Regions from separate parts of the Homo sapiens genome. Here all the other regions are reported to be linked to region 1. Evidence: microRNA targets listed by miRTarBase, many of them from high-throughput screens and not tested one by one. Region 1 holds a microRNA gene; each other region holds the end of a gene's coding sequence.
The links. Region 1 holds the annotated microRNA hsa-miR-4699-5p (AGAAGAUUGCAGAGUAAGUUCC, at 2,013-2,034, opposite strand). A microRNA usually pairs through its seed, bases 2 to 8, with sites in the 3' UTR of a target mRNA and lowers its output. Matches are read on the target gene's strand: a 7mer-m8 pairs with bases 2 to 8, a 7mer-A1 pairs with bases 2 to 7 and ends in A, and an 8mer does both.

Region 1 (3,098 bases):
ACCTTTCTCTAATTCAATTTATTGCCTGAGAAGGCAGAGTATGGCATATACCTTCAAAGTTAATTGTTGAATTATTAACAAATAGCCATCTGCCCTTGCTAATCTAGTAAACATACTGAAGAATTTATTGAAAAGGCTTGTTGCTGTGATGTATACCATATGTGAAATACAAACAAATGTAAAATGAGAGCAAACTTATATCCCTTGACTGGAAAAGAAGACTGTTATTACATAAAAATGACAACTGCTATATCAAGACCAATTATACCAACCAGTTTATGGCTTACTCTAAAGCCGGATTTAAGGAGAAACAGTAACTACTAACATTCCATTTTAGACCTACGTAATACTCTAGCCAAGGAACAGTAATCTCATTTCTTGCTTAACCACACCACTGTCATTGTGGAAGCCTGGGCTTACTGTATCATGAAATTGAAATATGTGTACAACACACACTTTTGCACATTGGTAGACAGCAAAGATAAGGAGAAAGGCAGGACACGGAAAGATTTATTTGCCTTAGAGAAATGTGTTGGATTTTGATTCTGCAGATGACAGTCTGGTAAAGGGAAGAAATACTAGAAAGAAGAGAGAGGCAAGGGAGCATATCTCTGTATAATCACCATTTGCCATCACACACATGTGAATGCGCATACACACTAGGCTGTTAGCTAAATTTGTTTGTACATTGCATTCCTATGTGAAAAGATTGCTTGTGTTTTATCCCTTCTCTTTGGCAAAACCATCCTACCAAATATCTGTTCTTGTTCATACACGGTTAGGGTTAGATCTATTGGAATCACTGCTCTATTAATGAAGTAGATTTCTAAAGAAGTACCATTCAATTTTTTCCTCTCAAAAGTAAAGACTAAATTATTCAGAATTGGTTTCCATATTTTAACTGGTCAATCCAATTTTCCTTCAAGAATTGCATACTTTAAACATCTCATACTGCACTGACTGAGCTGGCCAGGTGTTTTGTATTTAAATATGTCCAATTCCATTGATAAAAGTAAATCTCTGTCTATAAAACATATATCCTGACTTATTCCTTTATTATTTGGTAACTTTATTATTCTTTCCTGGTTTTGGGCATATTTTGTTCCTTTTTTCCTAGGTTCTTGAGATAGGAGCTTATATTCTTGATTTGAGTGTTTTCCTCTTTTCTAATCTATCTATTTAGTGCTATAAATTTCCCTCTCAGAAAATAAACTACTTAAATACAGGTGTTCTGTATTTAAATATGTCCAATTCCACTGATAAAAGTAAATCTCTGTCTATAAAACATATAACCTGACTTATATAAGTTGCTCATGCAGTCCTGTTGTAAAAAAAAGAAAATTTAAATTACTCTTACTCATTGATAGAAAAAATCTTTACGTATAAATCAAGTTTTCTTCTGATATTGTCATTCAGGCATTTATTTAACAAATATGTATTAAATACTGAATATGTGTCATTAAGGCAAGGAGCTGAGAATTGACGGTGGACACAAACTCAGATGACTCCTTCCTTAGTACAGTTAGAGGAAAGAAGGGCAAACGAACACATCAAAGGAGCCTAAAGACTAATATGAATCTGCAAGTTTTATACAAACCACCAAGGGAAAATGCAATGTGCTAAAAGACCATGATAAAGGGATTTGACCTAATCAGGGAGGTCAAGGAGGGCTTCCCTGAGGAAGTGACACCAGCTGAAATCTAACAGACAAGTAGCATATATTTCAGGCAATGTTCCTGGGACAGGAATGAGCATAAGAATAACTGCAGGGAAACAGGAGCATGTGGTACATTAGACAGGAGCACGTTGTACCTTGGAAGGAAAGAGAATGATTAGGATCGAGCAAATGGCCAACACTTTCAAATGCTGAGGAGTCAAGCACAGTGAAGACTGAAAATGCCCATTGACTTTGGCAAGTAGAGATGACTGGGGATGTTAGGAAAAGCTGTAGCTATGGAATGATGGTGACAGCAATTGGAGAAGATTGCAGAGTAAATTCCATTTCTTAATCAGGAACTTACTCTGCAATCTTCTCCAATTGCTGTTGAAGCTGTTGAGTGTAGACAAGGCCTTAAAGAGAGAATGTTGTAGCTGTCAGGAGATAAGGGATTAGAGATTTTTGTTGTTGTTTGTTTTAATGAGGTAGTTTTATGAATTTGTTTGAAAATGTGGTAATTATCAGGAAAATAAGCAGATTTACATGCAGTTGTAAGAAGTAATACAGAGATATACCCTTTAACCAGTTTTCCCCAGGTGTAAAAACTGCAAAACTACAATATGTTATCACAATCAGAATATTGATACAGTCAAGATACAAACCAGTTCATCTCTACAAGGATCCTTCGTGATGCCCTTTATGGCCATATGTGGCCATTGCTGATTTATAGAGACACAATGAATATTTGTATGTTAATCTTGTATCCTGAGACTGGGTTGAACTCACTTATTAGTTATGGGATTTGTGTGTGTGTGTGTGTGTGTGTGTGTGTGTGTGTGTGTATTCTGTAATCATTTATGCAAATAATCATGCCATCTGCAAATAAAGACAATTTTATTTCTACCCTTCTGGTGTGTATGCCTTTTCTTCCTCTATATTTCTGTTTATATTTATTTATTTATTTTTTGAGAGGGAGTCTTGCTCTGTTGCCCAGGCTGGAGTGCAGTGTTGCGATCTTGGCTCACTGCAACTTCCACCTCCTGGGTTCAAGCGATTCTCTTGCCTCAGCCTCCCGAGTAGCTGGGACTATAGGTGCGCACCACCATGCCTGGCTAATTTTTGTATTTTTAGTAGAGATGGGGTTTCACCATATTGGTCAGGCTGACCTTGAACTCCTGACCTCATGATCTGCCCGCCTTGACCTCCCAAAGTGCTGGGATTACAGGCGTGAGCCACCGCGCCCAGCTTCCCTATACTTCTTTATTAAATGAGCTAGAACTTCCACAGATATGTTGAATAGAGGGTGAGAGTGGAAATACTTGCCTTGTTCCTGAACAACAGAGGAGAAACAATCAGGCTTTTATGATTAGGTATGATATTAGCAGCAGGTTTTTTCATAGGTGATCTTTTGTCAGGTTGAGGAAGTTCCTTTCAATTACTA
Region 2 (3,098 bases), not on the chromosome of region 1:
ATAACACTTAAAGCATGTATTTTAAAAATATATTTTTAGACGGCTTCATTCAGTAGATCCTCTTAGAAGGGGGCCTTGGGCTGAAAGAAAGTTGGTGTGACCTGGTCTACTGCTGACCTGCCTTCTAGCCCTGTGAGGTCTGACCCCCCCAGCCCGCCCCACCTACCTCACCTCTCTGTCCAAGAGAGGGACTTATAAATGCAAAGGATTATTCAACAATCTTAATAGCATAATTGGCAATTCTATAGTTAAGTTTTAAATGAGTGCTGAAATGTTTAGAAACTAATATGATTTAATTGCTGTATAAAAATTTTGCCTCCTGACTTCTTTCCTTTTGCCCCACAGCAACACCTTACGAGTTACCCGTTCTGCTGCCCCCAGCACACTGGACAGTTCCAGCACTGCCCCTGCTCAGCTGGGGAAGAAAGGCAAAGAGTTTGAATTCTCACAGTTGCCCCTCAAAGTGGAGTTCCTGGAGTGCAGTGCCAAGGGTGGAAGAGGGGACGTGGGCTCTGCTGACATCCAGGACTTGGAGAAATGGCTGGCTAAAATTGCCTGAGAGGCAGCTCTAAAGCACAAGACCTGGATGTGTGACACACAGTTTTGGAAAAAGGTCTGTGGTAGTCTGGAGTTGATGAGGAAGGGGTACAAGATGTGGTTAGAAACATTTCTTTGTTCTGGAAACAAAGTACTGTTGAAACCAGCTTGGAATTTTTTTTTTTTTTTTTTTTAAGTTCAGTTCTCCCTTATGGCTGCCTTTCAAACAAGTACCTTTTATCTGATGCCTGTATCTTCCCTTTGTTAAGGTGTAACTTGATGTAGGGTCAAGGTTTTTGTGACAACAGGCAGACTCCACACAGAGAGGATATGATGAGAATATGGCCATCACCTGAAAAGTTTTCTTATCTTCTGTGCTTTTGGTCCCTGGAAACAAATCCGCCTATGTATGAAGCTAGTTGATTTCCAGTTGCACTATTTCCAGTTGCCTCTGAAGTTCACAGGCAATACATTGTCTAGTCCTTTGCGAATTTCTCTGATTTGTGGGCACAGTTATGAAGTTTCCCCACATGTGAAGACAGGTACAAAATAGCAGAGCCAAGCAGACAGTGGGTCTATTCTTCATTAGCTCAGTGACTTGTCCACACTCGTCTTAGCACTTACGTTTCAAAAGCTTGTCACAAACCCTTGGAGTCATTCCCAGATAATAGAACTGGAAATGATAAATCCCCTAATGCCAAGGGTCTAGTGTGTTCTTAGTGGTTATACTGGGAAGTGTGTGGAGATTTAGGTGCTGCTCTGCTGCTCTGGATGGCTGAAGGCTCCTGGGCCATCTTCATGTGCTGCTTGAAGAGCTCCTATTTTGTACTCCTGGCTAGAATGCTGTGGAACAAATACAAAGTGAAAAAAGTTCTCTGTAGATTTCTGAAGTGCATATTCATTGATGCCAAGAAAAAAAAAAAGTTGCCTTTTTGAAGTGATGTTTTTTGCTGTCTTCTTAAACACAAGGCTTTTTTGAATGATTAGTATATTTCATGGTAAAGAAAACAGCCTGTCTGGCTCAAAGCAATTAAATAGAATGTAATGGTGAGTACAAATGAGTGCACATGTCAGGACTCAGGTCTAACTCCTTGTCTCCTGAGCCTAAAGATTGCAACATACACAAGAACACACTCCTATTCCTACCCCACACACTCAGGGACAAGCCCAACTAAAGCTTACAAGGAGACCAGGGTGGCTCTGTCCAGGGGAGAAGCCAGTTATGGAACAGTGCATTGAGAGCCATGGTAGGAGAGGCCCACAGTTCTCTGGAGCATGCAGCAGGGGCACCCCACCTGGCCTTGAGGATCAGGGGGAGTCAAAGGATAAAGCATGGGGCTGATGACGTCTGAGGGAGTGTGATCCTCCATGTATGGCCTCTGCCTGCTGTCTCACATGTCCCTTCTGGTGGTCACTTGGGCTCTAGGAGTATACGTCACCTCAGACCATCTGGCAGAAATACTCCAGGCTCCTACCCCAAAGCACATGTCAGCCTTGCTGCTGGAGCACGAAGACAATGTAAATGAAACATGAAATGGAGGAGTTGTGAGACCCTGACCCTGAGTCCTTACTTGAAAGCTGCTGCTGGTGTTCTGAGTGTCTTTTGGACTCTTATTTCTTGCCCTTTTCCTTATTAGGCAAGCAGTAACTTAGGAAGTAGGTAAGAGCAATAAATGTGACATGTTATGTCATCATAGTAGGAGCTCATGGGAATAAAAGTCAGTGGCTTGATGCTTCTGTTAGAGGCATGTGTCCCTCTCAGCCTCTTTTATTTTTTTCTGGTTAATATCTTACTTTATTGGAGGAAGCAGCACACCAGAAAAAGTGACTGAAGAAGGGCTGCAAGTTTGAGTTTGATTCAAGGCCTAAAGAAGGTCTTCCAAAAAAGGATAATTCTATCTGGAACACTGGTCTCAAATGTTAGTGGGCATCAGAATTACCTGCGATGCTTGTTAAACTGATTTGAGGACCCTACTCTCAGACAATTTGATTCAATAGCAAGTCTGGTATTGCCTCAGGAATCTGCATGCTTAATAAGTCTTTTGTCAGTCGCATGGCACCCCTAGAGATGATCTGGCCTGGAGTGTCACGTGTGCCTTTACTTTGTTTTTAAAGTCTCTTGGGGCACACACCCTGCTGAGTTTTTCTGACAGGGTCAAGTCAGCAGGCATGGGAACTCTGACCTTGCTTCTTACTCCTGTACTAGTAGCAGGCATTCCGTTCTTGTGGCTTTGGGCCAGGATGAGGTCATGGTGACTAGTCTTTGGGAACTGGGAAGGGTTTTGATGGGAGGTCAAATGTGCTCTCTCCACTCAGGTGGTGCCCTTTTGTGGCCCTGAGGGCATTTGACTAAAGTAGGCCCATTTCATGAGATGGGCAGGTGTGGCCAGAGTAGAAGGATGGATGTCAGGTCTTGGAGACGGGCCAACTAGGCACGACTGTATGACATAGATGAGACTTTTGAGCTTGAAACACCTTGGGAACATGGCAGTGTATGGACACCGAGACCTCCTAGGACAGCAGCTGCCTAATGCAAATGACCCTGTTCCCTGCTAAGGCTG
Region 3 (3,098 bases), not on the chromosome of region 1:
AGCAAATAGAAGGAGATGAGGAGGATGAAGAGAAGATTGATGAACCTATTGAAGAAGAGGAGGATGAAGATGAGGAAGAAGAAGCAGAGGAAGTGGGGGAAGTAGAGGAAGTGGAAGAAGTAGAGGAAGTGAGAGAAGGAGGAATAGAGGGCGAGGGAAATATACAGGGAGTAGGGGAAGGAGGGGAAGTAGGGGTAGTGGGAGAAGTAGAGGGAGTGGGGGAAGTAGAGGAAGTAGAGGAATTAGAGGAAGAGACAGCAAAGGAAGAACCTGCTGACTTCCCTGTTGAGCAACCTGAAGAAAATTAAATATAAGGTATTAGATTTAAAAGGAGCTTTACATTTCGGTTCTAATGTAAAAAAGGGTAAGAAATTTAATAGCTTAAAATATGAATTAACACCCATGTTGCATGCATTCCACATATTAAAATTTGTTTTATATAATTTCTAAATGTTTAACATTTGTTTAATAAAATGAAGGCAAAACTATTTTAGTTTAGTTTTTATAGCTACCAGACTTAGATCCGATAAATTGTTTGTATAATTTTTAAGCTTAATTTTTATTACTTTATTGGTGTTAAGGATAACAAATGTGTATTGTTAGTATATCTATTCTAATCATTTTATCTTAAATGCTGCTCTTGGGAGTGAATATTCAAGTGTGCATCAATTTTTTGAATACTTACCCTGGAAGATATAAACTGGGCAAGTATTTTGTGCTCTGTGTATTTTTTTACTGCATTAGACATTGAATAGTAATTTGCGTTAAGATACGCTTAAAGGCTCTTTGTGACCATGTTTCCCTTTGTAGCAATAAAATGTTTTTTACGAAAACTTTCTCCCTGGATTAGCAGTTTAAATGAAACAGAGTTCATCAATGAAATGAGTATTTAAAATAAAAATTTGCCTTAATGTATCAGTTCAGCTCACAAGTATTTTAAGATGATTGAGAAGACTTGAATTAAAGAAAAAAAAATTCTCAATCATATTTTTAAAATATAAGACTAAAATTGTTTTTAAAACACATTTCAAATAGAAGTGAGTTTGAACTGACCTTATTTATACTCTTTTTAAGTTTGTTCCTTTTCCCTGTGCCTGTGTCAAATCTTCAAGTCTTGCTGAAAATACATTTGATACAAAGTTTTCTGTAGTTGTGTTAGTTCTTTTGTCATGTCTGTTTTTGGCTGAAGAACCAAGAAGCAGACTTTTCTTTTAAAAGAATTATTTCTCTTTCAAATATTTCTATCCTTTTTAAAAAATTCCTTTTTATGGCTTATATACCTACATATTTAAAAAGAGAACATGAGCTTGATAGAGGATCTATTCTTAAATAATTTATTTTCAAACAACCGTCTATGTCACTAAAAAGTAGTGCTCTTATTTTTTTCAATCTTTACTGTGGCCTCTTTTGAGAGTAGGGTCCGTAGTTTTTTTTTTTTTTCTTTTTTGGGACAGGGTTTCACTCTGTCACCCAGGCTGGAGTGCAGTGTAGCCTCAACCTCCTGGGCTCAAGCGATCCTCCAACTTAGCCTCCCAAGTAGCTGGGACTGTTAAGTGTGAGCCACCATGCCCAGCTAATTTTTGTAGTTTTTGTAGAGACAGGGTTTTACCATGTTGTCCAGGCTGGTTTTGAACTCCTGGGCTCAAGTGACCTGTCTGTCTTGGCCTCCCACAGTGCTGGGATTGCAGGTGTGAGCCACCATGCCTGGCATAGGGGGCTGTATTTCAGTGAAATTAGAAAAGTTTTGAGGCATCGAATGGATAAATGGATGGATATATCAAATTGTAAGGTATTAAGTGGGTGAATGTATGGACATTTGTAGAATCCCACAGATAATTTATCTTTTTGTGTAAAATAAGGCTTTTAAAACTAGACTTTCTGAACCAATACAGTTTTTTTTTTTTGAGGTGAACTAGGTTTGCCTAGCTTTAAGCTAGCAATATCTGATAGATACTTGCATCTAATTTTAGGGATTTGGTGCCAAATAAGAGAAGGGTAGTTGAAGACTAGATAAATTTGGATACTATCTAGGAGTCTGTATTTACTTAGCAGGCTTTTGAAAGCCGTTTTGCTTAGGAGTTCAAATTTTAAGGATAATAGGACTTGTTACCCTCTTATTTCTCCTTTATTTTTAAAAATATTTGTGGAAGGGCTAAGGTAAAAGAATAATAAATTCCTCTAGGTTATTAGTATTTGGTTCTTCTGATACTAAGCTGAGTGATTTTTTTTAAAACAATGTCTCTGGTAGTCTGATTGAGATATGAAACTTTTGGGAAGAAAACCATTATGTAACAAGAATCCTATGTAACAACTGGGTAAATGTTTTAGAATGAGAGATAGGAAAGAACATCTAAATAGTACTTTTTTGTGGGACGCATGAGCCTTTATACAGCCTAGCTAATTTGCAAGGTAATGATAAATAAAAGTGTATTTTGTTACTGTGCTTAATTCAGAAATTCAAATTCATGTATTTCCTATTGGATAATTTGTAGGCGGGCAGTTTACTTTATAGTCAGGTTAGTTTTTGTGATCCTTAGTGTTTATATTTGCATTGCTTTTGTAATAAGGATGTATATAAGATCTTAAACGCCTTTCAACTTCTGTTTTCAAGTATCACTTGTTTTCTCTATTACAAAGTGAGATACATAGTTCTAAATAACCAAAGAAATTTATTTATAACCTACACAGTTGTTTCAGCTCCATGCCTAGGGACTATCCTGTATTATTCGCTTTTTATCACTTTCTACCTACAGTCTACCAAAAAGTCTGTCTGTTCTACTTCCAAAATTTATCTGCCGACTCTTCTACCTCCACTGCAACCAACCCAGTTCAAGTCATGATAATTTCTTGTTAACTAATCTTGATTCCACCCTTACCATGATAGATTCAGTTTTCTACACAAGTATAAGCTTTTAAAAATGTAATTCAGATGATGTTAATCTCATGCTTTTTTTTTTTTTGTACCTATACAGTTAGAACTCCTTATCATGTTGATCAGACTGGCCTAGCTTTACAACTTTATATCATATACCATTCTTACCAGCCATAATGGCCTTTTGTTACTTTTTTGATGAGTTCTTTCCTACAAAGACCTTTGC
Region 4 (3,098 bases), not on the chromosome of region 1:
TCTCCCATTTGGCCTCCCAAAGTGCTGGAACTGTAGGTGTGGGCCACCATGCCCTGACTCCTCCCCCATCTCTATGTGCCAGTAGAAGAAAGAGTATTTGGGAATTAGAAGAGCTGGGTTATGGCTGAAATGTCTGCACTAACTAGCCGTGGGATTCAGGGAAGCCAGGTCATCTTCCTGGGTCTGTTCCTCATCTCCAAAATGGACTTTACATGCTCTAAGGTTACTCCTGCTCTAAAGTTCTAGTTTTCTTCTTGTAGCTTCTCCCGTCTTTTTTTTTTTTTTTTAAGAGACAGGGTCTTGCTATGTTGCCCAGGTTGGTCTCCAACTCTGGGCCTAAAGTGATCCTCCTGTCTTGGCCTCCCAAAGTGCTGGAATTAACAGGTATGAGCCACCACTTCGGCCTCCTCCTCTATCTCTATGTGCTCCTTTTTTGGGAATTTGCATTAGCCTTTTAGATGGGCTTAATAAATACTTTTTGTCTTCTTAAAATGTTTTTCTTAAAACTATGATAGTTACTTAAAAAAAGAAGTTTAGCTCACTGAAAGCACAGTTTCCTAAGTATGTAGTTTATGAAATTTGGAAAATAAGCAGACTGAATTTATTAGAGCTTTTGCAGTATCTTTTAATGCTCTCAATATATCCAATGTTTTCCTGGAGAGCTCTTTTGTCTTGGTGTGCAGTAATGTTGCATTCAGTAAATAGGTAAGAAGATAAAACGTCCCCTCCTTGGATTTTCCTAAATTGTTTCTCTGTGCATAATACATACCCTAATTATACACATGTATATGGTTTGATATAAAAGAGGTCATTGTTTATTTCATGTAAGTAATTATCTTTTCTTACCCTAACTTACTTTGAGGTATATTGTCATAAATGTAAATATATCAATTTAAAATGTTTAGTGTGAGGAATTTTAACTAATATATACATATAGCTATGTTACTATTACCCAAATCAATATAAGAAACTTTCCATCACCCCGAGAAAGTTCTCTCAAGTTCTCTCATATCCCTTTCCTCAGGCAATTACTATTCTGATTTTTATCACAATAGAGTAGTTTTTGCCTGTTCTTGCATATTGAATACAGTATGTATACGTAAAGAAAGAACTATCATGAAGGGGTGCAGACATGAATATTTTCAGCTGAAATCAAGGGCTAATAAACTGTAAGCTGGCTAGTGAGTGGAAAAAACAGAAATGTAACTATTAAAATATAATCACTTTGTTAAATTAAGTCAAACTTGATTAAGTGGAAAAAAATTGGCATATTTTAGAAAGCCCACATATACTGAATGATGAAATTAATAGTGTTCACAAAATGTTGAACCAATTTGGAAAAGAGATTATAGAATGAAGAAAAAACCATCATAGTCTAGAGAAGTGAGGCTGGGCACTGTGGCTCAAGTCTGCAATTCCAGCACTTTGTTTTGTTTTGAGACAAGGTCTCGCTCTGTCACCCAGGCTAGAGTGCAGTGGTGCAACGTTGGCTCATTGCAGCCTTGACCTCTGAGGCTCAAGCAATCCTCCTACCTCAGCCCCCAAAGTAGCTGGGACTATGTGTGCAAACTACCATGCCTGGCTAATTTTTAAATTTTTTGTAGAAATGAGATCTTACTATGTTGCCTAGGCTGGTCTTGAACTCCTAGACTCAAGTGATTCTCTCGCTTCAATCTCCCAAATTGCTGGGGATCGACTGAGGCCAGGGGTTGGAGACTAGTCTTGTCAACAGAGTGAGACAGCCATCTCTACAAAAAAAAAAAAAAAAATTAGCCAAGCCTGGTGATACATGCCTGTAGTCCCAATTACTCAGGAGGGCTGAGGTAGGAAGATTGCTTGAGCCTGGGAGTTTGAGGCTGCAGTGAACTGTGATCACGTCACTGCACTCCAGCCCTGGCGACAGAGTAAGTTGAGACTCTATTTCCAAAAAAAATAAGAAAAAGAGGAGTGAATGCCCCCTCTTCTCCAATCCAAATAATTGGATGATAAGTAATTAAAAACTGCTATGAATAGTAAGCCTTTAGTATCTTGGCCAGTTTATTACAGAGGACGATAAATGATTCCATGTGGATAGGGCATAACATACAGAGAATGAGACTATGCCAGAAATGGGAGGAGGCATTTGAAACAACATGAGTATCTCAGGGACAGATGGATTGATTCTGCTATTGGTAGGCCTGGAAGGCAAGGTCAGAAGTAGCAAAAAATGGATACCAAAAGCACTATTAGTCACCCAAGCTAAGTGGAATAGCTGGCCCAGTAGGAGAAATGCAGGTTTTGCTCTACACTAAGTTCTCCAACTCTTGATAAGCCTCCAAAAACAAATGTTAGGGGAAAAAAACGCAGCTGGTTATGAAAAGATATATCTCATTTCATTAAAAAATCAATGTCAATGCTGTTAATAGAATCCTTTTATCTTCAGGACAGAGGCAATGCCCTAAACAAACACCAGCTCAAGAGCCTCTGATGCCAACCTAGAGGGTACCCAAACACAAACTTAGCATAGAGGTAAGAATCTCTATGTCTTTTGGTGGAGGCAAAGCCATTTGGTTGGTACTTCACAGGAACATCTTTCTACCAAGTCTTCATCATATGGTATGTGCCACGAGTCTCCAGTTGTTTGCACCACTGTGTCATAGCTGAGAATACGCTGTTGAATTAAAAAGAGAACAAAACATTGAGAACAACACTAAAGGGCTACTTGGCCATTTCTCTTTCTGACACTTCTCAAGTTTGCTCCAGAAGAGTATTGATAATGGATTATCTCACTTAATAATGGATTTTCAAACAGCAGCAAACTCTGTGAAGATGAGCCCTAATATTAGGAGTTCCTTTTTTTGAGGGGTCTCATTTTTAAGTCTAAAGACTCTCTGTAGAAGCATTACATTTATGTAATACAGACGTTCTTTTGTTGGCTCTATCAGTTTTGTGTGTGAGAGTGAAAAATTTCAAATCCAGTCAGCCTTCCACAACTGCAGGTTCTGTATCCCTGGCAAACAACCACAGATTGAAAATATATGAAAACAAAACGAAACAAAACAAAACAACAACAACAACAAAAAACTGTGTTCTGAACATGTACAGACTTTTTTTCTTCT

Region 2: miRTarBase lists SRPRB as a target of hsa-miR-4699-5p. Seed matches in the 3' UTR shown: 7mer-A1 at 1,330-1,336.
Region 3: the mRNA of ZNF326 is a reported target of hsa-miR-4699-5p. Seed matches in the 3' UTR shown: 8mer at 1,103-1,110.
Region 4: the mRNA of PRORP is a reported target of hsa-miR-4699-5p. Seed matches in the 3' UTR shown: 7mer-m8 at 1,828-1,834.

Annotation. Positions count from the first base shown.
Region 1 is chr12:81,157,333-81,160,430 of GRCh38, reverse strand. MIR4699 (microRNA 4699) reads right to left here and starts at 2,043; the gene lies at 1,970-2,043. All of the region lies in intron 7 of ACSS3 (acyl-CoA synthetase short chain family member 3), which reads right to left.
Region 2 is chr3:133,819,208-133,822,305 of GRCh38, forward strand. It overlaps SRPRB (SRP receptor subunit beta), which reads left to right. Exons shown (of 7, transcript NM_001379313.1): 7 at 346-2,285. The coding sequence ends at 559. Among named protein-coding and RNA genes, the nearest start is that of SRPRB, 15 kb to the left of the region's middle.
Region 3 is chr1:90,027,394-90,030,491 of GRCh38, forward strand. It overlaps ZNF326 (zinc finger protein 326), which reads left to right. Exons shown (of 12, transcript NM_182976.4): 12 at 1-3,098. The coding sequence ends at 308. Among named protein-coding and RNA genes, the nearest start is that of ZNF326, 34 kb to the left of the region's middle.
Region 4 is chr14:35,272,987-35,276,084 of GRCh38, reverse strand. PRORP (protein only RNase P catalytic subunit) reads right to left here. Exons shown (of 8, transcript NM_014672.4): 8 at 1-2,650. The coding sequence ends at 2,519. It overlaps PRORP-PSMA6 (PRORP-PSMA6 readthrough), which reads right to left. Exons shown (of 15, transcript NR_182666.1): 8 at 1,794-2,650. Among named protein-coding and RNA genes, the nearest start is that of PSMA6, 18 kb to the left of the region's middle.